Linked DNA regions of Homo sapiens: region 2 is linked to region 1. Evidence: fine-mapped expression QTL. Tissue or cell type: whole blood. Region 1 holds a variant in brackets; the other region holds the start of a gene. All regions are shown on one strand. Distances are from middle to middle.

Region 1 (8,000 bases):
ACCTCGAGAATTCCCAGGTATTTAGACATTCATTTTATTGCTTAATCGAGCTTGAAGGCATTTAAATTAATACAAGTTTTTACATTTGGCAGCAAAGACATTTATAGGCCCCTTTAGCAGGGAAAGAAAGAGGTCAGGAGAAAATCAAAGAAGGAATTTATCCTGGGCAGTGGCCTTCACGATGTGGGAGCAGATCAGCTACCACGAGGGCCACGATCCTGAGGCTGCCCTTTTAGAAAAGCAGTCAGTGCTAGGTCTGTTATCCTGGGTCCTCGGGATGAGACAGTCAGTGGAGGAGGCCTTGAGGCCCGTGGAGATTCCTTGAGGGCTCTGGGGTTCAGCCACAGCCCACACCCTTCTGGCCACTCCTTCTGCGGGATTGTCACTCACTGCCCTTGCGCTGATGCATTTCCTGCCCGCGTCTTTCTGCCTCTCCTGTCCTCTCCCCCTCTCCTCTCCTGCTTTTCATGCAACCACTTTAATTACCTTCATTAGACACGAATTCATTCAGCTCTACCAGGAAAAGCAGCCTCCCTCTCCCCAGGGGTTGCCTCGCTCCCTAAGGACCTGCCTGTCTTCTAGCACAGAGCTGGGGAGGGTGCTGAAGAGTGGGAGGCACCAAGACCTCTGCCTGCTTCTTCACTTGCTCCTGACCTTCAGCTGCGCTCTCTCTCTCTCTCTCAGGTTAAGGAGAATCCCGTTTGCCCCGGTAGCTTTCTGCCGCAAGGAGGGGAAGGGGCTCTGAGAAGAGAGTCGAGTTTTGGGGTGTGTCTGTTCCCGTGAGAGGCTGAAATTGAAGGGTTCTGGGGGTTCCCAGAGGTTGGCAGCGGCTGCCAAGGCCTGTGAGCCCAAGGCTTCGGCGCTGCTGTCCTCCCCACGGGCACAGCCCCTGCACACTCAGGCCTGGCCCCCACAGGCTTACGCCTGTCTCTCTGTCCCAGGTGGAGGTGGAGGTGGAGAGCATGGACAAGGCCGGCAACTTTATCGGCTGGCTGCACATCGACGGTGCCAACCTGTCCGTCCTGCTGGTGGAGCACGCGCTCTCCAAGGTCCACTTCACCGCCGAACGCAGCTCCTACTACAAGTCCCTGCTGTCTGCCGAGGAGGCCGCAAAGCAGAAGAAAGAGAAGGTACATGTGGCAGCCCAGCTGTGCTCTCCCTGCCCTCCCGTCCTCCTCACACACTAATGCTGCTGCCTCCAGAGAACAGGAGGAAGTTCTCTCATCCCCACAGAGTAGCCCAGGAAGGTGTTGGTCTCAGACCCCACACCAAGGCCACACACAGGCGAGGAGAGGCTGCCAGCTGAGGTGTCCTCGGCCACAGCCTGTTGCAGACCTGAGGTGGGCCTGGGCTGCCAGCCCAGAATGTCATCAGTGATCCCAGGCCTGCTCAGGTGGTCCTGAAGCAGAAATCTGTCTAGGTGACTGTGGAGCCATGGGACAAAATGCCCGGGGCGCCCCTCCCTCCCCAGCCCTGACCCTTCTCTGTCAGTGCCCTCAGGACTGGGCGGCCCAAGCCCACATCTGAATTTCCTTCACATTGCCCCGTGGGGAAACAACCCTAGGAGAGGCCTCTAGCTGTTAGGACAAGAGATTTATAGCCCATCAGTCTCTGTGGGCACCGCATTGAAGAGACAAGGGGGATGGGGTGGAAAGTGGCTTTTGGAAACCAATTGACAATTGAGGAATGCAGTGATTTGGAGGTGGGAGCCGGGCTCACCCAGCCTGTTGCTTTTGACTTATAGCCCGGCCCTGATAATGGGGATAAATCAGCTGGCCACCAATTTGTCAGGGCTTCTCTGAGCTTGAGGAGGATTCGTGGGACAGCCGTGCTGAGCTATAAATTTGTTCCAGGAATAAATGCTTCCTTCCCCATGGGGCAGCCATCTGGCTCAAAACTCACTTCCCAGAGCTAAGGCCCGGACACCTGCCAAAAAGAGTCGGGGGCTTTGAGGCCCCAGAAGCACCAGATTCTTCACCAGCCCCAAGCAGCTGCCTCCTCATTCAGGGCATCTCTTGTCCCCTTGGGACTGTCCTCCTGGGTCTCTCTCTATCTATTCTTCCCTTCCCCTGGGGATTGGGGCAGGCAACCAGCCCCTTGGTGGTAGAGGAGAGTGGAGGTGGAAAGACTCCAGGGAAAGGTGGACCACAAAGCTAGCACAGATGAAAGGGACGGTCAGTGCCCTGCAGGAGGCAGCCACCATCAGACCTCAGAGGAGATTCCCACCTCCTGCTCACATCAAGCCTCCTCCTCCCAGAATGAGGGGGAAGCAGGCAGCCTCAGCTCCTATAGGAAAGGAGTCACACGGCTTCTTCCTGGATTTCCTGCTTGTGACAGCTGAACTTAAGACTGCCACCCCCATGTCCTCTGCCTGCTGCAGGGAGAGGGGGGGAGGGGCAGCGCTGGGGCCTCCTGTTTAAAGGTTGGCACTTTCACAGAAGAGTTAGCAGCTGGGGGTAGAGCGGCAAGCCCCAGAGTCTAACGCCCAGAGGCCAAAAGCATCTTCGTCCTTGCCCTGCTTCCTGGCTTTTCAGCAGTGAACCTGGAAGCCACCTTTTCAGAGCTGGGCGATCCTCTACCCTCTAAGAGTAGAGACTCTAGAGGAACCCAGGGGAGCACAGGGAGGGGACTCTGGCCTGAGATGGAAGGGTGGGTTCCCTGCCAGGGGCTGTGCTGAACTCAGCATCGTTATTTACTGCACAGTGGGTTTGTCTGAAAGAGCCCAAGTCACCATTTTGCTGGTGCCACTTGATGACGCTGAGGAGTAATTACCAGTGATTAATTACTTACACGGCCTGCGTGTTTTTATTCCAGTCCAATTAAAATGCAGTGCACAACTCTCAGTGCTAGGGCCTGCCGCCTCCTGGGTCCCTCTCCTGCAAATCCCAGTCTGCTCGTCAAGGATCCTGAGGAACCGAGGCTGGCTTTCTTCCTCCTGGAGGGGCTGTTTCCCAGGAGCAGCACTAGCAGAGCTTTGTAGCAGCTCTAAGAGTTGGCTGAACCCTGATAAGAGCATCTGGTGGCCGGCTGGGGGACAGTAACCTGAGTATCTGGGGTGTACCCAGCCTTGTCCCACTTGATCCCACAAGGGCTGCCTTACCTGTCAAGAGACAGTGGTTACAAGATCCTGTTAGCATCAGGATGCAGGAATGTTTGTGCCTGTAGCTAACCAAGGAAAGGTAATGCTGAGGGATTCTGTGAGACCAGGAAGTGCAGAAGGCTTTAGGGAGTGTGATTGTGTGTGCATGCATTCGTGAGTGTGTCTGTCTGGGGGAATCTGAGAATGCTGGTTTCCCAGCTACGAAGGCTTAACTACCTCCCTGCTGAGTGTAATTCCTCCCTGTGCCCTGTGGATGCCTCCTCAGTGAAGAGGCCGATAGGGCTCTCCACTTCCTTGGCAGGAGGTAACCCCCACTTCCTCCTCAGCAGCCCTGGGCAGACCTGAGGACCAAGGAGGGAACCACAGATGGCAGATGCCTGTCCCCCCTCCTTAACCCCATCTCACACACGTGCTCAGCAGGGCCCTGCACAGGGCTGGATTGGCCATCGATTGGCTTTTATTGAGCTTGGCTTCCCTGCTGCAGGCCTAAAGGCCTCCGCCACCTTGGCCCCTCGCCAGCCCCACCCCTGGAGCCTTGCAAGCAGCAATGTTAAACAGGATTTAGAAAGGAAAGACTCCAGCCAGTGGATTCTCTGTCCACAGTCCTCATCACCTGCCAAGAGAAGGACCTGGGACTCCCTGAGGAGGAAATGCAGGGAAGAGAGAGAGCCAGGGCAGGGAGAGGAGAGGAGAGACAGCCTCCATTCCTGACCTGCCTGGTCTGTGCCTGGCTTGATGGGCTCTTTCCCTCAGGGTGGCCGCAGCAACAGAACACAAGGAGCCCCAAAGTGTAGAGGGGACCCGAGCAAGACAGGAACTTGCATGGCAGAGCAGCCTGGAGCAGATGAACAGGCAGGAGGGGCCTCCATCCACCCTTCCCAGTCTTGCTCTGTAGCTGGGGCCACCGGGGGTACCAGCAGTGCCCCACCAGGGGCAGAGCTCCACCCTGGCCTTGGCCTGGAGAGACACTTCCCCCACCTGACCGCAAACCCTGGCATCAGTCAGCTGGGACAGCCTCTCCACAATAGCAGGCTTAGTAACAGCCTCTCCACATGCTTAGAGGTGGTCCATGAGAAGGGCAGACTGTCCTGTGGTTGGCTCTCCCAGCATTCCTGGGCCCTGCTGCTTAGGTCAAGCTCAGGACCCCTGTTCTCTGCCCAGCTCTTTGGCCATAGAGGCTCTTCCCCAGCTCCTCCATCTTTCAAGAGGCTGGGGTAGAGCCATACAGCAATAATTTTCTGTGTCTGGGTGTACAACTACTGTT[T/C]CTTCTGGAGTTTTCCTTGTCATCTCCCCAGAGGTCCAGGAAGAGGAGCATCTACAATGGGGATTCCCAGAAACCAGCTTCTTATGGGAAATCTGAGCTGTGAGGGGCTGAGGATGGCTGTGGAAAGTGGCTGGGTCTGGCAGGTGTCTTGCCAGTGAGTGTGTCTCCTCCATGCACCCCAGCTCTGCAGAAGGGCAGCCTGAGCCAAATGCACCCTTGTTCTAAGGATGGGGACAAGGGCAACCACGCCTGTCCCAGCTGACTGACTCCTTCCCACCAAGGTGCCACCTGGCCAGCCTGCATGGACCAGCTTGCCCATGTGGCTGCAAGTCCCAAGGAACAGCTGGTCACCTCCATCCCCACAGGGAAAGAGGGAACCGTCATGGCTGCACTGCCTGAAGGGCCAAAGGTCAGCCTCTCCTAGAAACACAGTTCCTTTATCTGAGGAGACAGCTGTCTCTCTCCTACCCTCTGTATGCTTCTTGGCAACCTCAAGTGCCAGCCACTTTGTGTATGGAGACACCTTGCTTCTGCTGTCTTCTCAATTCAGGTGGCAGTGTGCACCACCCCACCCACCACGAAGTGAGCTGTGGCACCTTGTTACAGGACTGGCCCTAGTGCTGGGGGCTGAGGGCCATCCCCAAGGCTTTGGTTTGCATCTTCCGTGACCTCACGCCTGCTGCCCACCTGAGCCTGCTGGGAAAGAAGCTCCACCCCACTCTCCCCAAGGAGGACACCTGATGCTGTCACCCAAGGCACTTTTACTTGAGGAGTCTTTAGCAGTTTCTGCTTTCATCCTGTGTGTTCCGAATTCATCAACACTGCTGAGGGGCCGCCTTCCCCCAAGCCAAAGGAGCAGGGTGGGGCTAGGATGGGAGCCCTCAACAGCTTGCAGGCTCAGGGGCCATGGCCCACTCAGGAACCAGCACAGAATGCCGGTCTCTGTTAACAAGCTCAGTGCCGGGAAAGGAGGGAGCTGGCAGGAAGAGGGAAGAGCACCTGCATGGGATGCAGAGCAGAGGACGTGCTGAGGGATTCAGGACTGCAGGGGTGCCTGCTGGTAGGAATGAGGGAGCAGACTCCTGGGTCAGGAGGGCTCCATCCCAGTTCACTTAAGGTAGTGCTGACAGTCTCGTCTCTGAGGCCGAGTGAGTCCCACTGATCCTCAGAGCTGCAAGCGTCCCAGAAGGGCTGGGAGCCCAGGTGTCAATAGGAGTGACTGGCTAAGTAGATACCAGGGAACTTCCAGCTCTGGAGGCCCAGGGCAAAAGCCTCAGGCCCATCAGGACATAGGCTTGGCATCAGAAGCATTTATGGCTCTCTCCTGGCCCTTTCACAGGGAAGCCCACAAGCTAGAGACCCACTTCCCCACATGGGCAGGAAGGCCCTTGAGGGATTAGGGCCTCTGTCCTGACTAGAGGCAAAGCTGTGGGTTAAAGTCCTGCTGCCTGCCTCCTCCCCTCTGGCCAGCCAGGGCTTAGGGGACTAGAAGCAGCAGTGTGTACAGAGGTCTCTGGTGATGGGGACAGGTGTTAGGGTATCAGGAGCCTGGAAGGTGAGAAGGGGTCAGGAACTATTTGGGTAGGAGGCCAGACCCCATACCAGGGGCCCACAAGCCCAGCCATAGAAGGCACTGCTTGATGTAGGATGGTGGAAAGCTTGGGCCTGGGAGATGTCTCAGTCATTCCCCCATAGCCGCTCCTTCTAGTGGAAGAACACACGCTCAGGCCGCGTTAAAGGCAGAAGTGTGGGGTCTGGGTTGACCCAAGGTGGTTCCAGAATTCCAGCATTCCTGCCTTTCTGCTGTGTCCTGAAGCTCCTGAGGAATCTGCATTTCAGCTGAGAGAGAAGAAAGGGGACCCAGAAAAGTTTGACCAATGTCAAATGGCAAGTTCAAAAACAACAGGGACATAAGTCCTCATCTCCCTCCCCACCCCCCACCAACAAACAGCTTTTTCCTCCTGGTTGGTGGTGTTTTCTCAGGGATACCTAGTCAATGCCAAAGTGCCCCTGGAAGAGCTGTAGTGCCAGGCTGCCTATGTTTGAATTCTGATTTCACTACTTCTAGCTGCAAGCCTGTGTACCTCAGTTTTCCCATTTGTAAAACAGGGATAATACCAAGACCTACTCAAAGGGTTGTTGTAAGGACTAAATGAATTAATATTTGGAGAATGTTTAGAATGGTACCTGGCACCTAATAAGCACAGAAGTTTTGGGCAAATACTTTTAATCATCCTTATTCCTGTGTGCGTCTGTGGGACCCCACGCGTGATCCATTCTCTGCACTCTCCCACCCACCCTTCCTGCTGCTCAGCTGGAAAGCCACCTCCCTCCCCTGCTCTGACAGACCTCACCATTTGGATAATCTCCTGGCTGCAGGATTGGACTTGACACGCTGTCGCGTCAAATCAGCTTCTGAGCCACTGCAGCCCTGACAGCACAGGGCTTTGGGGAAGGAAGGGAGAGAGGGAAGGGTGGAGAGCGCATGGCCCAGCTTCTGGGCTGAGGTCAGAGCAACCTGCTGGAGGTGAGGAGGATGGAGAAAGGGAAAGTTGCTGAGCAGAAGCATTCTTGGTGAGCTCTTCCCCAGCCTAGGGCTGTGGCTTGGACTGCTTCAGGAGCACCAGGAGCCCTGTGACAGCAGGAGGTCCTGCAGAATTCAGAGTGCCCTGCAGAGTGCCACGGGGAAGGGAGATGGGGAGCTGGAGCAAGAGAGGTGCGGGTGTGAGGAGCCCAGAGCCAAAGAGTTCATGAAAGCAGGGCTCTCACACTCGGACGTGCATGAGATAGCCTGGGATCTGGTTTTGCTCTTTTTTACTCTCTGGGATGCTCAGAACAGATTGTAATTTGGTAGGCCTGGGGTAGGATCTGGGGCCTGCATTTTTAATAAATTCCCTTGTTGGTTCTGATGCCTGCCAGAATTTGAGAACTGCTAGATCAGGACTTTAGAGAACTCACCTTTCCCCTCCGAGATAGAGGGCTTCAGGGGCTCAGCCTGGTGTGAATCGAGTGCCCCACAGTCACTCGCCCAGGGCCGATCCCATTTGCCCAAAACCCCTTTCCCAGTGTCTTTTTTTTTTCTTCTTTTTTGAGACGGAGTCTTGCACTGTCGCCCAGGCTGGAGTGCAGTGGCATGATCTTGGCTCACCGCAACCCGTGCCTCCCAGGTTCAAGCGATTCTCCTGCCTCAGCCTCCCAAGTAGCTGGGATTACAGGCGCCCACCACCGCACCCAGCTAATTTTTTGTATTTTTAGTAGAGATAGAGTTTCACCATATTGGCCAGTCTGGTCTTGAACTCCTAACCTCGTGATCCACCCGCCTCGGCCTCCCAAAGTGCTGGGATTACAGGCATGAGCCACCACGCCTGGCCTCCCAGTGTCTTTTATGACTTCACTTCCTCGCCCTCTTCTCACCTCTGCCGACTGAACATGCAGGTCTGGGCCCACTATGAGGAGCAGCCCGTGGAGGAGGTGATGCCAGTGCTGGAGGAGAAGGAGCGATCTGCTAGCTACAAGCCCGTGTTTGTGACTGAGATCACTGATGACCTGCACTTCTACGTGCAGGATGTGGAGACCGGTGAGTGCTCAGGCCGCTGGCTCGTGGTTCCTGGCTTGGTCCAGCTGGCGCTGCCTGGG
Region 2 (8,000 bases), 45 kb before region 1:
CTATGAAGCATCTTCTAAAAAATGACAGATTCAGTCTATCCCTCTTGCCCCCTCAGCAGCCCACACCCTACCTCTTTAAGGATGTTTGTTGTTTTAGTTTATTTTATCTCAGCAATTTCAACCTTATACCAGAAATCCCTTCTGGCAGCATAGCAAGTTAACTTGTGGCTTGTACCCCACAACGTTCCCAAGATTCCCCCCCACCCCCTTTAAATAGAACTTACAAGTTAGAAAATATTTTTGTTTTGACTTTTTGTCTTTAAATTTTAATATAATCTGTTTTTTTTAACCAGCCCATAGACTTAATATATAAGCATATACAAGAAAAAGTCTCTCCCCACTCTGTACAAAAGTTGCTGTCTTTGTGTGCATTCTATTGCATTTTATAAGTTTTTTGGGGGAGGGGAGTCATATTTGAGTTTCCTGTACCTTGTCCTTGGTATGGGTCTGAATTATATAAGGTTCAGAGATAGTGGTGACTGTGGGGTGCAGAGAGTTCCCCAGGCTGTTTTCTGTCCAGTGGGCCCCATGTGCTGGTTTGTAGGTGTTGTAGTTAATATGGTCATGAATTGTGGGCAGCACTACTGCCCCCTCACCTGATACACCGGACGGAGCTGCTGTTGCTGCTGCGGATGTTGCTGCTGGGATGTCTTCGTCCACCTGGATTATCTCAACAGTCCGGGCGGCTGTGACTGTACTCCGCTGCTGGTGCCGCTTACGAAGTTTATAGAAGACAATCAACATGGCGGCAGCTAGCAGAGTCACTGCCACAAAGCAGCCAATGATGATCTTGGTGGTCTTCATGACTTCATCCAGGCTGGTCTGCATCTTGTCAGTGGTGTCTGTCGCGGGTACTGCCACCTGCTTGGGCACACGGGTAGTCTGAATGAGCACCGTGGTAGAGGTGGTATATGCCGGCTGGTAACCAGTGGACGTGGTAGGAACAGGCTTGTACTTTCGCGTTGTGTCCTCAGGCGAGATCTCCGTGGTCTCCACTGTTACTGTGGTGAAGAAGCTGTAGTTGGAGGTGTTAAGCTCAGCCGTGCTCACATTGAGGTAGGCCGAGGCGTTGGAGTTGCCTGCAACATTGGTCACCATGCATGTGTACACCCCAGTGTCTGAAAGCAGCACGTGGGAAAAGTTCAAGGTGCCGTCGTTGAGGACAGAGATCCTTGGGTGGCGGGAGGCGTGGCTGAGCACTGTCCCATTGGGCAGCAACCACTTCACGGAGGACATAGGGGGAGTCCGACACTTAAGTTCTGCCATCCGACCCTCAGAAATGTTGAGGTCTCGAGGTGCGTCCATGATGAAGGGGGCAGAGCACTGGAAGGAGGCCTGGTCCACCTCCACGAGGTAGCGGCCTCGCATGTGCATGGGAGCATGACAGCGGCCACAGCAGGTGGAATTGGTGGGTATATACTCTCGAAGCCACCAGGCTAGCCACAGAATGTCACAATCACAGTTCCAAGGGTTGTGGTGTAGATGCAACTCCACCAGGTACCTCAGCGGGGTAAAGAGGTCATGGGGCAAAGAAGAGAGGTTATTGTGGGCCAAGTTGAGTTCCACAAGTGAAGCCAGCCCGTCAAAAGCATTCCGCTCAATCAGGCTGACCTGTGAGTTCATGACCCAGAGCTTCTTGAGGGAGCTCAGGCCATGGAAGGAGCCAGGCCTGATCTCAGGGAAGTGGTTCCCTGACATCTCCAGCTCCTCCAGCCCCACCAGGGGGGTGAGATTGGGCATGTCTTTAATGTTGCACATGCCCAAGTTCAGATACTTGAGGTTGAACAGCCCCTCAAAAGCTCCCTCAGAGATATACTCCAGCTTCTTGAGCTCCCCCAAGTCCAGGCGCATGAGGGAGGGCACCCGGTTGAAGGCGTAAGAGGGGATGCTTTCGATGGGGTTGTTGCGAAGCCAGAGCTCCCGCAGCTTGGACAGGTATTCAAAGGCCCCGCTAGGGATGACTGTCAGCCAGTTGTCGAACAGCTCCAGGGTGTTGAGGCTGGCCAGGCCGTTGAAGGCCCCCACCTCAATCTGCCGGATGGAGTTCCTGCCCAACTGCAGGACCTCCAGGTGGTGGAGGTGGCGGAAGGTGTCGGCCTGGATCATCTGGATGTTGTTCTCCATGAGGTTGAGGTACCGGGTGTTCGAGGGAATACCCTGCGGGACCTCGGAGAGGCCCCGGCGCGTGCACACCACCTTGCTGAACTGGTTACTGCACGAGCAGACGGAGGGGCAGTTCTGGGGCCCGGCTGAGGCGGCAGCAGCGATGGCTGCACACAGAATCCACACTTGCGCCGTGAGGTAGACGAACGGGAGCAGGATGGCATTCCAGGTGTGGTGGTGCACAGTTACCTGCCACAAGAGCTTCATGGTGTGGCACGTTCATAATTCACCATCGCCTGGGATTTTGGCTCGGAAAGGAGAACCAGCCCTACCCCGGCTTAAGTGAGCTAGGAGCTCCTCTTTCCATCTGGAGAAGGAGGTGGGGAGGGGGCGATTAGAGAGACGGAGCGGATCGGCCGAAAAAAATCCTGCCAAACTCGAGCGGCCCCTGGTCTCCCAACCCACCCTCAAGGCAAGCCCTCCGAAAGCTACGACTCTCCCACACTGCAACCGTCCCCACCCAGTTCGCCGTCACCTACCTCGGAAGGAAGGCAGGAAAGCACTGGCGTGGTGTCCTTAAGCTTTCTCCACGGGAGCTGGGCACCTCGTTCCCATTCCGACTTCTTAGTTTTAATTAACAAAAGGGGGAAGTGGTGGGGGCGGGGAGGGCAGAGGGGAGGGGAGGGGAGGGGAGGGAAGGGGTGGGGGAGACAAAATGGCCTCTAGTAAATCCGGAGCCGGAGCCGGCGAAGCCGCGGAGTTGAGGCGCGCCTGGGAGAGCCAAGGCCCGGCGGGCTATGCAGGTGCATGCCCCCCCCTCCGCCCAAGGAGCGGCGCCACCAGCGCTTCCCGGCTTTGTCCTTGGACCCTGGCACCGGCTCGCTCCAGCCGCGGGGGAAGGCGCTTCATCGCCAAAGTGCGCTCCGGCGGCCCCGGCCCGCTCTGCGGGCCGCCGCCGGAGGGAGTGCGGGGGCGCCCCGAAGCCGCCCAGGCCGCACTCGCTGGATGCTGCGCTCCCTCTCCCGGCGTCGGCCGCTCCGGGCCGGCGGCAGCTGATTGCGGTCGTGAGCTCGCGGAGCGGCGAGAGTTAAGAGGAGGTGTTCGCGGCGCCTTCGCCCTCCCCAGACACACACCCCCTTTCTCCTCGCCTCTTCTCGGAGGGTGGAAGAGACAAAAACGGGGGGTCAGTTCTCCAGTCCGCCGGCTGCCGGCACGCGGGGCGGCGCTCCGTCCGGCCCCCGAGGACCAGCGGCGTGGCGGCTGCGCTCGGACCCGGTCCGCCGGCCGGAGGAGCGCGCGGCGCCCGCGGTCGCGCCCGCACCGCAGGCCCCTTCAGAGAGTCCGGGGGCGGGCGCGGGTCCGGCGGCGGCGGCGGCCGCAGCCCCCGGCGGCGCGCAACCGCCCGTCGCCGCCCGCCGCTGCCCGGCCCCCGGCGCGCCGCCGGCTCCGGCTTTGTGCGGAGGGAGCGAGTTCGCGGCTTCGGCTCCCGGCGCCCTCAGTGGCCGCGCCGCCAGCGGACTGCTGCAGCGGCGTGAGCAGCGGGGGTCGCGGCTGCGGGAAACGCTCCGGAGCCCAGGAACATAGTCCCCGCTGGCTAGCGGCGGCAGCAGCAGCAGCGGGGCCCCTGCGCGCGGCGCCCACCGTCTCCTCCTCGCGCCGGGCTCGCGGTGTTGCAGGCGGCAGCCACGCAGACTGCTCTCTCATCCTTTTGTCCTTCAGTCAGAACGTGAATGTACTGCTGACGCATACTGTTCTGGGAGAAGATTAGCGTGATGCAGTGCTCTTATGTATTAGCGCCGCTCCCCCTCCGTCGCCTGCCTCGCGGGGTTAACGCCGGCGCCTTCCAGCGCCGCGCCGGCCGGCGCCGCGCAGCCCCGCGCCTCCGGCCGCCCGTCTTCCTCTTTCCTCCTTCCTTCCTCCTCTCTTCCTCTCTCCCCCTCCCCCCTCCCCCCTCCCCGGGCCGCTTCCTCCCCGCCCCCTCTAGACGAGCGGAGCGGGGCCAGGGCGAGCGGGCGAGCGAGCCGGAGTGAGCGTCAAGTGAGGGGCCGCGCGCAAGTCGCAGGCGTTCGCAGCTATTTTGGGCCGGTCGGAGGGAGCAGTTGGGTGGCCGCTGATAGGCTGGAGCGGCGCGGGGCTGCGGCGGGAGAGCCCGCGCCGGCCCCCGCCCTCCGGCCCGCACCCGGGGCCCCCTGGCTCTGAAGAGCGGGGCTCAGGGGCCCGGCGGCCCGCGGCGGGGCTGCTGCATTTGGCCTGCCTCTCGCCCGGCCCGCGTCATCCTCACCCCCGCTGACTGCTGACGGGGCGCGGACTCGCGTTCGGAGTTCGGAACTGCGTGGTGGGGACTCGGGGGACGGCGGCCGGGGCCACGAGGCTCCCAGGACCGAGAGCCCGGGCTTCGCTGCTGCACTGCCGCCAGCCCCTCCTTCGCTTTGCCTCACCCCTCCTGTGCTCTCACTGGGGCTTTAAATGAGGGTTTCCTTAATGAGGGTTGCGGGGGCGGGAAACAGTGGCAGGAATGACCAAGTGTGATGAGCTGGGGAATGGCAACCTGGGACAGCACAGAGGCCGGCAGGAAGGATTGAGGTGAACTCCCGGAGCCCACGACACAGCCCGTTCATTCATGGAGCTGCAGCCGCGGCTTCTCAGTCTTCGCTGGCCGGAGTCGCCCCTTGCTCCCCGCTGCCCCCAGAGAACTGGGGGAAGGGAGGCGGGCGGCTGAGCCCCCTGCCCTGTGAGCTCGCCAGCCCTTCCTTGGCTAGGACTCTGAGAAGAACTGCGTAGCAGCCAGGGGTAGCGATTGGGAGTGGGGGTGGAATTCTTGCTCCTATTTCTGGTAGGAGACCCTAAGGCATTTGACAGACTAGTGTAGGAGAAGGGGACTAGGTCAGCTTTTTCCCACCCCCCTGAAAAAAGACTGCCCCTTTCTCTGCCGACTGTGGGTGAGGCAATCTAGCTGAGCCCTGGGAAGCCGGTCCAGTAGAATATAGCATGGTTTAATATCCCTTCCCTTCAAGAGCTGCCTCCAGACTCCTCAACCCACCCCTCTCCCCGTGTGATTTCTGGCAGGCTCGCTTGATAAACCCTCATCACCTGCGCGTGGGCTGTTGCTTAAGAACGAGGAGGTCCCAGATTTCTCAGCTCTCTGGTTTCTACCACACCTATTTCTGAGTATTGTCTTTTGCCCAGTAACCTGAACCTCTTTAAATACGCCATGGAATACTTGAAGTCCTGGAAACGGTTCCTTTGTAGGCAAGTTGGAGTCCCCATTCTTTGCCAAGACCTTTCTGTTATCATTTGCTGTCAAATAATAACCTTGTTAGTTTCTGTTTATTGAACCCTTACTCTGTATTCCACTGCAACCCTATTATTCATTTTATATGAGTCAAACGTTGCCTAGGGTCACTAGTAAGTGATAGTGGATTTGAGCCTCAGCACGTCTCAGATGTCAAGAAACTTGGGTGTGGAAGTGATTCCCCAAAGTATTCTCCTAGTGGGATGAGAACTCAGGTTTCATTCATCCACTTCAATAGTCATTTACTGGGATGCTTATCTACTATGTACTATCCACCATACCAAGAACTTATATCTGTTCTTGTTTAATCTTCATTTACCCAGTGAAAGTAATTGCCACACTTGTCTCCATTTCACAGATGAAGGCACTTAGCTTAGGCAGGCAAATAACTTGCCCAAGGTCACACACTAGAAAGTAACAGAGCCAGCCTTTCCATCCAGCCTTCAAACCCTGAGTCCGATGTTTTCATCACTAACAGGAATGCCCGCTGTGTCTACTCTTCATAGAGTAAATGGTGGAGGCAAGTGGAGGGGGGAGGAGAGAGAGACTGTAGGAAAGTTCAGTGAAGGATGTGTCAGAGAAGTAAGATGAAGGGTAGGAGACGGGCTGAGAAAATGAACTCTCATCAAGAAAAAGAATGAGGGAGACATGGAGGTAAGTCAAACCCTGATACTGGGGTTTAGTTCCATCTGGGCACTCAGACTTTCTGGTGAGAGGTTCTGCTCCTTTATAGCTGGCACCGACCTAGTAGAGTCATCTATTGCCTGAGGAGACCCCTGGCCAGGGTCTGGATGGCAGCGATTAAGTATGACTATCCTTCCCTCCTCAGGCAACAGGGTCTCTGCCTGGGCTGGTCCTCTGCTACTGTAGGCAAACTCAAACCCTGTCTGTTCAGCTCCAGGCTCCACAAATGAAAGCTGCTGCCCCGCACTATAAAGGTAGATGAAAGTGGGGGCCGAGTTGGGTCAGACCAGTACTTAGTAATGAGGTTGTCTCTCAGTAAGTATTTGTGACTGCCATCCATGAAGGTGACTATGCCCAAGCTCTGTCGAGCTCTACATCAGGCTGCTTTGCCCCCTGTAAGCCAGCTGGGCCAGGAAAGCACCACTGAACCTACTAACTGGACTACAGAGGAGGCTGTGGGGCCGTCGTTGCACACAGCCCTTCTGAGCTGAAAGTGGGATTGCAGCCTCTCATTTTGGTAACCCAAGTACCATCTAGCTATGGCATCTTGCTCCTCACAGCCCGTGGCTCTGACTGCTTCTTGGATTTGGAATGGTGCCACCAAAGAATAAGAAGGAAAGAAGGCTACTTACACCCTAAGAGGAAGAGACAGTGGATTCAGATTGTTTTCACTTGCAGTTTCACACAGGGAGACTGCTGTGATAACGCCAGAGAGAGCTAAAAAAGCCAGCAGTGATTGGGGAAGGCCTGTGTCAGCAGCCTGGTATTATAGAATGAGCCCTGTGCTAAGATTGGGATACCTGAGTTCTAGTCCCCTTTAGACATGTGACAAATCTTAAAATAGCTCTAAACATCAGTTTTTCCATTTATAAAATCAAGGAAATGGATTAGAAAGTTTCTTACCGCTCTCTTAGTCCATGATTCCTGTCCCATCTCAGATATGTAGCTCTGTGAAGGTTGATCCTTTGGAATTGTAGCCAAGTCTTGGAAATGGGCCACAAAGTTAAGTGAGAATGCTTTCTTCATTTAATCTAGAGATCCACAGTGCTGGAGCAGAGCAAATCGGACTGTGTTTTCCCAGCTACTAAAAAGACACATAGATCACAGAATGTTAAACTAAAGTGGACCTTGGAGATTATCTGGATTTAACCTCTCACTTTACAGATGTCACTGATGAAGCTCAGAGAGGCACAGTGACTTACCTAAAGCTACATGACTGATTAGTATCAGAGTCTGTCCTTTTTGACCTCAGTTCCTCTAAGTAACAATGTATGGCTAATTGGCATTTAAACCTGGGCCTTGAAGATATTTCCAAATGCCTGTCTAATGTGGGCTTGTATGCCAGTGCAACTATACTTTGCTGGATTGGGATAAAGAAGAGTCTTCAATAGCACCAGTCTGCACTTCCTAGTGACTTTGGGTCGCCAATAGAAAATGACAGAAATGGTCATCTAGAGGACCCAGGACTCTCCCACCCAGCCAGGATAATTGGGTTCCTTAGTAAAGCCCAAGGCTAGACCACTCCCTAACCTGATATGCATCCCTGAGGCATTATCCTGAGCAGCCACTAGATGTCCATAATGCCTCATAGGGTGTTCCAGGAGTGAGCTGGGTATCGTTTTGCCACCAAATAGGCTTTGCGGACTCTTTTAAGGGTAGGTCCATCAGTGGCAGGAACAGAACAGGAGCAAAGACATAAAAGGAATTTGGGAAACTAGAAAGAAAAAAGTAGTATGGAAATTGCCCTCCACAAAGGGAAGGAAAGATATCAATTGGTGAATCAGTAATAATAAAAAGTAGGAATGGTCTACATGGAAATAGTCACTGCCTTCTTTCCAAGGTAATGAACACATTTGTGTGTGTGTGTGTGTGTCTTAGTTCCACCCACGTGTGCAAACACCTATCAGGGACAACTAGCCAT

What was found. PIP is the estimated chance that this variant, and not a neighbour inherited with it, causes the effect.
Region 2: LRRC4 starts here. The variant in region 1 is fine-mapped to the expression of LRRC4 in whole blood (INTERVAL, PIP 0.94).

What each region holds. Positions count from the first base shown.
Region 1 is chr7:128,073,561-128,081,560 of GRCh38, forward strand. SND1 (staphylococcal nuclease and tudor domain containing 1) reads left to right here. Exons shown (of 24, transcript NM_014390.4): 17 at 942-1,130; 18 at 7,800-7,941. Among named protein-coding and RNA genes, the nearest start is that of MIR593, 4.3 kb to the right of the region's middle. RefSeq lists enhancers at 3,047-3,548, 3,549-4,048. The variant T/C (reference allele first, on the strand shown) is at 4,365.
Region 2 is chr7:128,028,271-128,036,270 of GRCh38, forward strand. LRRC4 (leucine rich repeat containing 4) reads right to left here and starts at 3,167. Exons shown (of 2, transcript NM_022143.5): 1 at 2,643-3,167; 2 at 1-2,470. The coding sequence starts at 2,370. The coding sequence ends at 409. All of the region lies in intron 16 of SND1 (staphylococcal nuclease and tudor domain containing 1), which reads left to right. RefSeq lists silencers at 3,611-3,730, 4,381-4,450.